Regions from separate parts of the Homo sapiens genome. Here region 2 is linked to region 1. The links come from fine-mapping of genetic effects on gene expression. A gene starts in region 1. The other region holds a variant in brackets. All regions are shown on one strand. Distances are between the middles of the regions. Region 1 holds the start of SCN4B (sodium voltage-gated channel beta subunit 4). Region 2 overlaps SMIM35 (small integral membrane protein 35).

Evidence for each region. PIP is the estimated chance that this variant, and not a neighbour inherited with it, causes the effect.
Region 2: its variant is the best candidate, but not a certain one, in a credible set for the expression of SCN4B in monocytes (Schmiedel 2018, PIP 0.77).

The regions. Positions count from the first base shown.
Region 1 is chr11:118,149,918-118,155,140 of GRCh38, forward strand. SCN4B (sodium voltage-gated channel beta subunit 4) reads right to left here and starts at 2,906. Exons shown (of 5, transcript NM_174934.4): 1 at 2,696-2,906. The coding sequence starts at 2,756. RefSeq lists an enhancer at 3,524-4,024.
Region 2 is chr11:118,078,710-118,083,932 of GRCh38, forward strand. The region is part of intron 1 of SMIM35 (small integral membrane protein 35); the gene reads right to left. All of the region lies in intron 1 of TMPRSS4 (transmembrane serine protease 4), which reads left to right. Among named protein-coding and RNA genes, the nearest start is that of TMPRSS4, 4.2 kb to the left of the region's middle. RefSeq lists a silencer at 4,485-4,779. The variant C/T (reference allele first, on the strand shown) is at 2,673.

The DNA of each region.
Region 1 (5,223 bases):
TAAGCATGTTTTCCAGATTCAAACCCAGGATTCCAGATTCAAACTCCCTCCACTTCTCCCCTTTCCTCTCTTCTCCACAGTCTCCTTGCTTCTTCTTTCCTTTTTCTTCCTCTGAGTGGGACTGAGCACCCTCTCCTTAATTGCATTCTCATTAAACAAGCCCTTAATAAATACACACCAGGGGAAACAGGGTTGTGCAATAGAGCACCCTCACAAGTGATAATTAAACACAGATCACAGCAATTAAGTAAATGGGGGAACAAGGAAGGAGTGGGCAGGACAGAGATATTACCAGTTACATGCTTAGGAAGAGATTGGAAAGCACATAAACCTCAATGGCAATAATATAGCCTTGGAAACTGCTTCTCAGTTTAAGAAAAGGGTATTTTGTTAGGTTATCAAAAATCACTTTGGTCTCAGTCTGTGAGACTGGGTTTGATACGGGGAGAGGGGAAGAGGACTCCTGGGAGTTCACTGCTCTGTACCCAGTCTCCGAAGCTGTGAAAAGAGCCGCTCTAGGCCCCTCAAGTCTTTATCCTTCCACACTCATGCCCCAGAGCCTCACTTATTCTTCAGCCCTAAGCACAATCACTATTTACCTTCCCCCTCACCAGACTTGAGTTAAGTGGGAAGCAGCGTGGTGTGACAGAGCCCAAGAAACTTAGATTCTGTCCCACTTGGCCATCAATTGGCCATGAGCCCCTAGACAAGTCACCATCCCTCTCTGGACCATGACTTCCTCATCCCTAGGAGAGTTCTGTGCTCTGCTTCCCAGAGTTGCTGCCAACTCTGATGTTCCCAGGGAACACCTCCAGTTGGCTGTCCAGTCGTCTCTGTATCTCCCCCACTGGACTGAGAAGCAAGGATGTCATCTATGTCCCAAGCTCAGACCAATGCCCCTGTGAGGGCTCAGTCAGTATTACCTGGTCAAGGGCCAAAGGGACTTTGGTTGGAGTCCCTCTGCAGACCAGAGGGGCAGGGGACAGAGCAGATGAGGCCAGTCCTGGGGCCTGCAGGTCTCCCACCTACAAGTCACTCTGCTTTCTCCTGGGCTCCCAAAGGGTAGCTCAGAAATTCATCTAAACCTATATCAATAGGCCTTAGCCCCTACCTGGTCTATACAGCTGAACAGTCCTTGGAGAAGGTGGGGCTTCCACCTGGAGCAATGTACCAAGACTGTGCCTACAATCCCCCTTACACACGTGCACACACACACACACACACACACACACACATCATTTTCAGGGCCCTCTTGGTTGCCCACAGAGGCCTGGTTCTATGAGTATTCTAACAAACAAGGGACTGGCATCCCACCACCCAGGAAGGTAAGCCAGAGGTGTGAAGTGGGGTAGTTTAATGACTGGCTGAGTTTGAATTCCTCAGTGATCCTTTACCCCTGCCATTGCCACCATGGGGACCTGGGCTGATCTGAGATGGGATGAGGGGAAGTAGCATGGAATGGCGCTGTGCCCACCCTGTGAAAAGGAGCCTCAGGCGTCACTAAGGCCCACTTCATTAAGGTCACTGTGAAACCAGCATGACATCTGTGCCAAGGTACAGGAGAAAACAAGGGTGTCTTCCATCTAGCGGTACAGAGGTAAATAAACATCCCAAGTACAAGAAATACTCTCTCCCCTCTTCACCACCAGGCACCAACCTGCTAGATCTGCACACAGTTTACATTCGCAGAAACAGTAGCCACTTCCCTTATAGGGTTCTGTCTCCCTGTTTTCAGCAGAAATACCTACACCGTGTGTCTTACCCAATGCAGGGAGCTGCCAAAAGCCAAATCTGACCAATATAAACAGGAAGAGATGCCGTTGCCAGAGATGGAGTCGGCTTACATTAAAGTCTGGCTATGATTTATGAGGAGATTACATCCTGGATGAATAAATATCATTCCCTAATCTCTTGGAGTTTGACACTCAAAACTCTCATGTGCATATTAATAGATATTAATAATGCTTCTTCCTCCGTGTCCTCTGGACATGTCTTCTCTGTCTCCATATTCACTTCAAAAATGAAGAGCCAGGAGCAGGTCAAACAGGTCTTCCCTACGGAATCTCTTTGTAGGAAGAGAGACAAGGCCGTTCCTAAAGGGCCTTGAATGATCCCGCAAGCCCCTCCAGCCCCTTCCAGCTTTCAGGTGCTGCTGTAGGGAAGGCAGTGGCTCCTGAGGGAGGTACAGGGCAGAGGAGCAAAGCAGGAAAAGGGCCCAGGAAGAAGGGGACTCCCCCACCCCCAACTGGTGCATGCCTGGTGCCTGGGAAACAAGCAAACGGCTCTGGGCCGGGATGGAAACCACCATTCCAACAGTCACACGTGCAACCCACCTGGTATCCCCTGCACTCAAGGCACGGACCCCCCTCCTCCAGCATCCTGAACCTCTGAACTCTGGAGACCCGCGCTGCAGCCCCAAGATCCAGCTCCAAATACCTGGAGCCGAAGGTGCCAAGGACAGCAAAAAAACTAATCCTGAGACTGGCGGGCTGATGGGGTAGAGAGGGACGCACACGGTCCCCAGGGAGCACAGCCTATGAACCAGGCAGGAACCAGGCAGGAAGCCGGCGGCCACCATCCTCATTCCGTGCCGCACTCCAAAGCCCACCCCATCCAAGGCATCTTCCTTCTCGAGTGTCCCCTTCTTTGGGGGTGGGGGGAGGCAAGAGAAGAGACCAAGCTGGGGCTGCCTTACCCAAAAGCCCAGTGCCCAGCCATCTCGCCGGGGCTTTGCCTCCGTCCCCAGCCCCGGGCATAGTCCTGTTCTCTCCGGAGCGCGCGGGGGTCGCGGGGATGGGATACTGGGCACAGCCGCGCTCTCCGCCCGAGGTCGGCGTTCGGCCACAAAGCTACCCCGGAGCTCTGCGCCGCCGGTCGGGGCTCGGGAAAGTTAGCGGGCAGAGAGCGAGAGGAGGGGGAGGGAGGGAGCGGAGGGGGAGGCGCGCTCGCCCGCTGCTGGGAGCCGGCTGCTGGAGCAACGGCGGGAGGGAAGGAGTAGGAGGAGCCGGAGCAGGAGCGGGAGGAAGACGGAGCGAGCGCAGCGGCGAGCGAGGCTGCGCCTCTGCTCTGGAAGCGCTCCAGCCGCAGGAGGGGCGGTGGCCGCCGCGTAGGCCGGGGAGCCCCCGCCCGCTGCGCACCCTGCCTGCCGCACCCCGCCTCGCGGTCCCGGAGCCCCGGGACCACGCCGTGCCCCCAACTCCCTCTCCAGTGGGGCTGGGCTGCTGCGGCTGGCACTGCAGGGCCGGCCTGCAGCCACCCGCATCATCCCATGCGCTGAGCTGCCAATTAGGAGCATAGTTCGGGGGGAGTAGAGGTGGAGCTTTTCGGTTGCTGGAAGACTGTTTTGCTTTGCTTGGGGGAACACGGGAAGGTTAGCGGCTCCCTCTCCCAGGACCGCCAAGGGACCGCTTTAAAGTCCGCAGCGGACGCTGCCGCAACGGGTGGGCGTGTGCGGGCTTGCCCACTGCAGCTTGCGCCTCCTCGGTGGCGTGCGACATGGCGCGCGTGCAGCCTCGGGACCCGCTCCCGCCACCTTCTGCCCCATCGCTCAGCAACTCCGGCGGTTGTTTTAGGAAGCCCGGAACAGAGCTTTCCCATTGCAAACTGCCCCGGCCCTCCCTTCCCCCACCCCCACGCCACCCCGCCCCACATTTCTCCATGGACCCCTTGGAAATCACCACGCTCCAGGTTAGGGAGCAGGTTGGTCCGCGCCTGGTCTGTGTCCTGCGCCCCATTTCACCCTCCCGCTGCACCCCTGCTTCTCATTTTTCCTACCTAGGCCGTCCCCCTCAGATGCTGCCTTTTCGCCCTCCTCCAACTCTCCTGTTTTCTTCGGAACGGCAGACTCCCTCGGCCTCCCTTTTGGGGTAGGGGTGGAGGAGTCCAGGGTGACAACCAGGTCAGAGGGCTGAGGCGAGGCTGTGAACGAGTAAGCCTTTTCCCAGACAGGCCCAAGTGAAAGAGTTTCACCTGAGCGGTGCTACTTGGGCTGGTGGTTCTGTAAATGAGTCGATCTCCTCCTCAGCACCTTTCCAACCATCCAAGACCCTCCCTGCATCACAGGCCCTCTTTACTGTCTAGGACTGGTCCGGACTGGGAAGCCCGCTCCCACTTCATGGTCTGACTTCTGCTGCAGGCACACCAACGCACCGCCTTCTTAACGAGGGGTCTCTGGGTGGACTTCGGCGTGATCACGGACCCCTTGAGGTTGCAGGCAAAGTGCTGAATGTCTGTTTGCTTTTTCAGGAGAGAGGGTCGCTGCCTTCCCTATAGTGGCACAGAGGCTCTGGCAGCGCCACCATTTATGACTGTATGGCTTTGAGCAAGTTACATGGTCTTCTGGGGGAGCCTCTGCTCCTCACCTATAAAATGGTGAATGCAATGATATTTGCCTCCTAGGCTTATTAAGAGCGATGTTACCCCTGGACCTGGGCAACAGAAGCCTCAGCCCTGATTTCTGGTTTTAAAGGCCCTCATTCTGGCCCTCCTCTGGCCATGCCCCTCACTGGAGAATGAGTCCATGGGACCAAGGGGGCAGGGCAGGTGGGGGCATGCACCTCCTCCCCTTCTAGACTGTACTCCAGGTATCAGGAACTCTGGAATTCCCTATTCCCCAGATCTGTCCTTTCAAGGGCTGGCCATATCAGGTGTGCACTCAAGGGCTAGAGCAGTGGGCAAGGGACAGCTGTATGCAGGTGATGGGGAGTGCATGTAACTTGACACACACCCTAGGCATGCACAAGAGCCCCTCTCACTACAGGACCAGAGAAGAGTGTGTACCAGAGAATGGCCTGAAAATTTCATTTTGGACATGGTTTTCCAGGTTATCATGAAGGAAAAGTAATTAAAGGCAGAGGATAAAACATCAATCTTAACACTTTGTTATCCTGATTAATATTTAGACATATGTATAATTTCCATTTGTACCTTTGCTCCAGGACTTGCAACATCAAAAGTGGACCTAGCTGTAAAGAGGGAATGAGATATTATTGCATGTAAAAGTGCTCAGCAGACAGCTAGGCACAGGATAAACACTCAGTACATTTGAACTTAAAGAGGTCTGTGGGCCCTGAGGCTAAGCCTCCCCATCTGTCTCCAGGTCCGCAGGCTTACCCTGTCCTTCCCCAGGAGGTCCTTGCACTAGATCCGCAGGGCCAGGCATACAAACTGACCACTTTATTTTTACAGCAGGGGTCATGTTTCTCAGAACCCTAGACTGAGGTG
Region 2 (5,223 bases), 71 kb before region 1:
AACAGAGAAGGGAATCATTTCTAGGGCAGGTCACTAACTGCAGAATCAGAAGGCTGAGGCCAGCTCCCTGATTAGCTGTGCTGTCTTGAGGCATTCATCTTCCCGAGACTCACCTTCTCCCCTGCCCACGGAAACGATATGACCCACAACAGCCCCACGCACATGCACCGGGTTCGCAGAGATTACACAGCTAATACATGTGAGTAGGTTCTGGAAACCATGAAGCCCCGCACAGATGTAAGGACTTAGGACTAAAGAGGAGTCTGTGCTAGGAAATGACAGCTGGGTAGTACACCCAACACAGACCCTTTGCCACCAGGGAAGGAGCTGGGCATTGCTGGAGGAGCGGGGGAGGGCAGGTGGGAACACTGGTGGAGGGGTCAGGTCAGGCCTGGGGCCCCAAAGGCAAGGCAGCAGCATGGCCAATCTCCACGGTGTGGTCAAGGAAGTTTCTAGCCCCGGAGCTAGCCATTATACTGCCTGTGCTGAATAACCCTGTCATTAAGCCTGTGCTTAATAACCCTTGACAGCCATAGCTCCCAGCCCTGAGGGGAGGATGGGATCTCCACACCCAGGCTCAGCCCTCCCTTCCCTTCCCTTCCATTCCCTACCTCCTTCCATCCCCACAGGCCCCTTTCTGTGACAGTCAGGGTCCTTTGAGCTGCTGCGTCTTAATGACAGCTCTCCCAAGAACCCATTAAGCTGGGTATTCCTAGGGAGAGCTGGAGCAGGGACTCAGGCCCAGGCAGAGGTCAGAGCCCAAGCCCTGTCCCCGAAGGAAATGTGTCCCATGCTAACTACTCCATAGCTGAGGCCTGGAGGGAAGTCAGGGACCCTGGGACTGGTTATCCTGGCCTTGACTCATTACTGTTCCGGAGACCTAAACGCACCCTGAGCCACCAGACGTGGGTGTTAACACCTGAGGTCAACCCCCTGACGCTTCCGGCTGCTCTGGAGGAAGCTGGTCCTCCCTCCCACCTCCTGTTTTCCGTGCCAGCCTGGTACAGAGTCAAGGGGCTTGGCTGGGCTTGGCTGGGCTCAGAAACGTGGCAGTCAGGAGCCAGCCTGCGGGCAGCGGGGTGCTGGGAGCACTGCAGGGTCCACCCTGACTGGGGCACAGAATCCAGAAGCCCACTCGGCCCTGGCAGTGCCATCCTAGGCTCTGAGGTGGTAAACTGAGCTGGGCAGTGGGAAGGTCCTAAAGGGCAAGACAGGCAAGGAGGGGCTGCTTGCTTTGCCTGCTCTCCTGGATCCTTTGCCACCTGGGTGACAGGGCCTGGTGTCACTGTAACCACTCCCCCCCCACCAAAAGAAGCTCCAGCCAGACACCATTTAATCAGCCCCTTTCATTGGCCAGCCTCTAAATGGGGCTGGGGATTGGGAGGACCCAATACCTAGGTTTCACCCTGCAGGTGCTCAACACAGAGTGTGACAAGTATAACACCAGCAGTGGTTACAAGGTACCCCTGGAGCTGAAAAAGCAATAGATTCTCTCTAGGGAAGTCGGGAAATTGTCCTGGAAGAGAAACTATTTGCATTGGACTCTGAAGGATGGGCAGGCTCTCTCCAGGCAGGGAAAGCAGGAAGGAGCTCCAGACACAGGGGACTGCATGTGTGAACAGCAAGAAAGAGTGGTAGTATAGGGACAACAGGCTCTCGCTGTGGCTGGAGCAAAGACTCCGGCACTCCAGGTCATGGGAGCTGCACCTGCCGAGGTGGAAGCTGCATCCCCAGGCCCTGTCCATCTCCCAGGGCGCTTCCAGCCTGACCCTGGGGGTCAAGCTCTGTGCCTGGGTGCTTCCCTGGAGAAGGGGTTCAGATGTCAGGGCTCCTGCGTGACCCCAGGCCTCTCTCCTCCTCTCAGTCTTCCCTCAGTGCAGCTGAGAACCCAGCAGCCACCTCCCTAGCCCAGACCCATGCCAAAGCCCAAGAGATCTGAGGAGCTGAATGTAAGAAATGAGGAGAGACCAGCTCAAGGGGGTCATGGGTAGAGGGAGAGATGAGAAAAACAGACCCAAAACAGAGCTGGGGAACTGCCGACAAGCTTCCCAAAGCCCCAGAAACGCCCCAGGGCAGCAGGAGACAAATGCTTTCAGGCCTGAAAATCTCCACGGCCTCAGACTTCCCAGGTGCCTCTTCTGCCCTCAGTCTTCCTTCCTGCTCAGGTGAAAACATCAGCCTCAGTAAAACGCTTCAAGTTCCCAAGCAAGGATTCCCTGGGACAGTGAACTCCTCCAAACCTAAAGTGCAATCATCTACCACATTTTCTTTTAAACCTGTTGCCACCAGAATGGGAGCTTCTTGAGGACAGGGTCTGTGTCTTTTCTGCTTTTAGCCGCAAACCTAGCACAGGGCATGGCATCCATGGCATGGACTAGGCACTTAGTAAATGTGAATGAATGAATGAGTGGATTGATGGATGACAGGTAAATAATCAAAGACAGAATCCCCTATAACCAATTTCTGATTTATCTGACACTGAAAACAAGGCTCACCCGAAGTCCAATTGGAAAACATACCAGATCTATCTGAGGGGTTACTAAAGTGTTTTTATCCCAGAGGGGGATGGGCATGAGGGAGGCACAGGTCTGAGCCTGCCCGGAAACCCTGGTGATAGGGAAGGGGAAGAGTGGGGCAGAGCCAATGTGGCAATCCCCCTGTGACACGTCTAA[C/T]GCCACCTCCCAGCCTGCCACTCTGACTAACCAGCACGTCGGCAGCTGAGAAATGTGTAAACAAGATGGAAAACCGCAACAGTCCTCCCCTGCCCGTGGCCCCCAGAGCACCCTCCAGCTTCCTCGCATAATCCACGTGCAACCAGAAACTCTCGAAGGGTAGCAGATGAAAGGAACACTTGAGGAAGAGGGTGAGAGACATGATGGCCCCTGTCCAGGCGTGCGCACCTGTCCAGGGGTGGCAGTCGCGTCTCCTGTCACAAAATGTCCTGCACATCAGTCTGGCTGGGCGTCGCCCGCTGGTGCGGTTGAGCCAACCAATGCTTTCAGCATATCCTGCTGTCTCAGTTTCTTCCTCTAAATCTGTATGCATTCATTCATTCATTCATTCAGCATGTGTTCCCTGAGCATCTACTATGTGCTAGGTACTGGCAAGATACCATGGAAGATTCAGAGAATATGTAAAATCTAGGCCTTCAGTTTTGTGCACTCCATAGATGGAACAGGAGCAGGGGAGACTGCTTTCCCACACTCCAGACAAAGCCTGACACTCACTCACTCACTGATGTCCACAAGAAGGGGCTAAACATAGAGCCAAGGTCAGCCCCCTCACCTTCATCCCATCTCCACCCTGACATCACTCACGATCACATCTCCAGTCTCCAGAGAGGAGGGTCTTGCCAGGCTGCTGGGAGAACCTGTCCGGACACGTAGGAGTCACTGGTGGTCTTAAAGAGAATAATAGCTACAGCGGCAGTATCACATCTCTATCCAAATGCAACAAGGGCCCCATGTTGTGCTTTGAGAAGCACTTTCACATCCAAAATCTCCCTTCAGTCTAATACAACTCTCTGAGACATTGTAATCCTCATTCTACAGATGAAGAAATTGAGGCTCAGCCGGGTGTGGTGGCTCATGCCTGTAATCCCAGCACTTTGGGAGGCCTAGGTGGGCGGATCACCTGAGGTCAGAAGTTCAAGACCAGCCTGGCCAACATGGTGAAACCCCATCTCTACTAAAGATATAAACATTAGCCGAGCGCAGTAGCTCACGCCTGTAATCCCAGCGACTCGGGAAGCTGAGGCATGAGAATCGCTTGAACCCAGGAGGCAGAGGTTGCAGTAAGCCGAGATCACACCACTGCACTCCAGCCTGGGCAATAGAGTGAGACTCGGTCTCAAAAAAAAAGAAAGAAAGAAAGAAATTGAGGCTCAAAGAGGTTCATGACTTGAAAAGGGTCATTCAGCCAAGGGCAAAGGGAAAACCAGTAGCTATAATTAACTTAGACTTTCAAGAAGACTAAACTAAAGTTTCATACCCAATGCTGCTCAGGGAAAAAAAAACCCAAATTACCAGGAGACCATTAACGATAGAAAATTGATTTAAAGAGAGAATATTATAAGTGGATCAGGCCTAGGACTAATCCTATCTGTGGGAGGAGACAAGAGAAATTTCAGGCTGAGAGTGAGCTCTTCAGAATCACAGACCCTAAGGAAAAACCTTAGAGGTCTTCTCGGCGAGTGGGTTCCCCAAGCGTACTTTGACCTCAGAGCCTTTAGCTCCACTGAAATCAAATGCAGAATCCTCGTATGGGACACAGAGAGAAAAACAGAGCTGCAGTGTTTGAAAGGACTGTCCCCCACCCCCGCCACTTCTGCCCTGCCTCCCTCTCCTCTGCTGCGCCGCTGCGGGGCTCGGTCGAATCCCCCAGGGGTGCTCAGAGCCCTTATCTGACCCTGGCCCTCGTCTGCCACAGAAACCTTCACAATCCAGCTTTTGCTCACACATCTGTTTCTAGAAGCTACGGTTGCTGAAAACAATCTTTCCTTTGCCAGGAGAAAAGACTTTCTGTAACTTCCCCCGTTCCTCCTAGAACTGTCTTTTGCCTTTCTCAGACGGCCACACACACTTGAAGCTTTCATGCTTCCACTGGTCCTTGCTTCTCTGAACTGCGTGTTCCACCCTCTCTTCCGAGAGAGTTCACACAGGTCACACGACATCACCTCCGGTCCCAACTGCCCTGGTCACTGTCCCCAGATGCGCTTAGTCCACAGAGTCCCCTGCTGAAGCCAAGCCCCGGGGCCCATGAAATCATAAAAGTCGCTCTTTGCTCAGTTCCTATTACATACATGACAGGCCCTCTATGAAGCTCCTTCCCATTAACAATAAATAATTTTTGACTATGAGTATCTACTATGTCATGAACTTCCCAAGTTCTATTTTAATATTGTTATTAATAACTAATAAAAATAATAGAATATACTCCATGGGCAAAAGAGCTTTACCTCTGGTTCACTGCTAGGTCTCCAGGGCCCAGAAAGTTGCCTTACTAAATGAGTAAACTATTATTGTTGTTGTTATTATTATTACAGTTAACAATTACTGTACTCTTGGCTGGGTGCAGTGGCTCACACCTGTAATCCCGCTTTGGGAGGCCGAAAAGGGCAGATCACATGAGGTCAGGAGTTCAAGACCAGCCTGGCCAACATGGTGAAAGTACAAAAAATTAGCTGGGCGGTGGTGGCAGACGCCTGTAATCCCAGCTACTCTG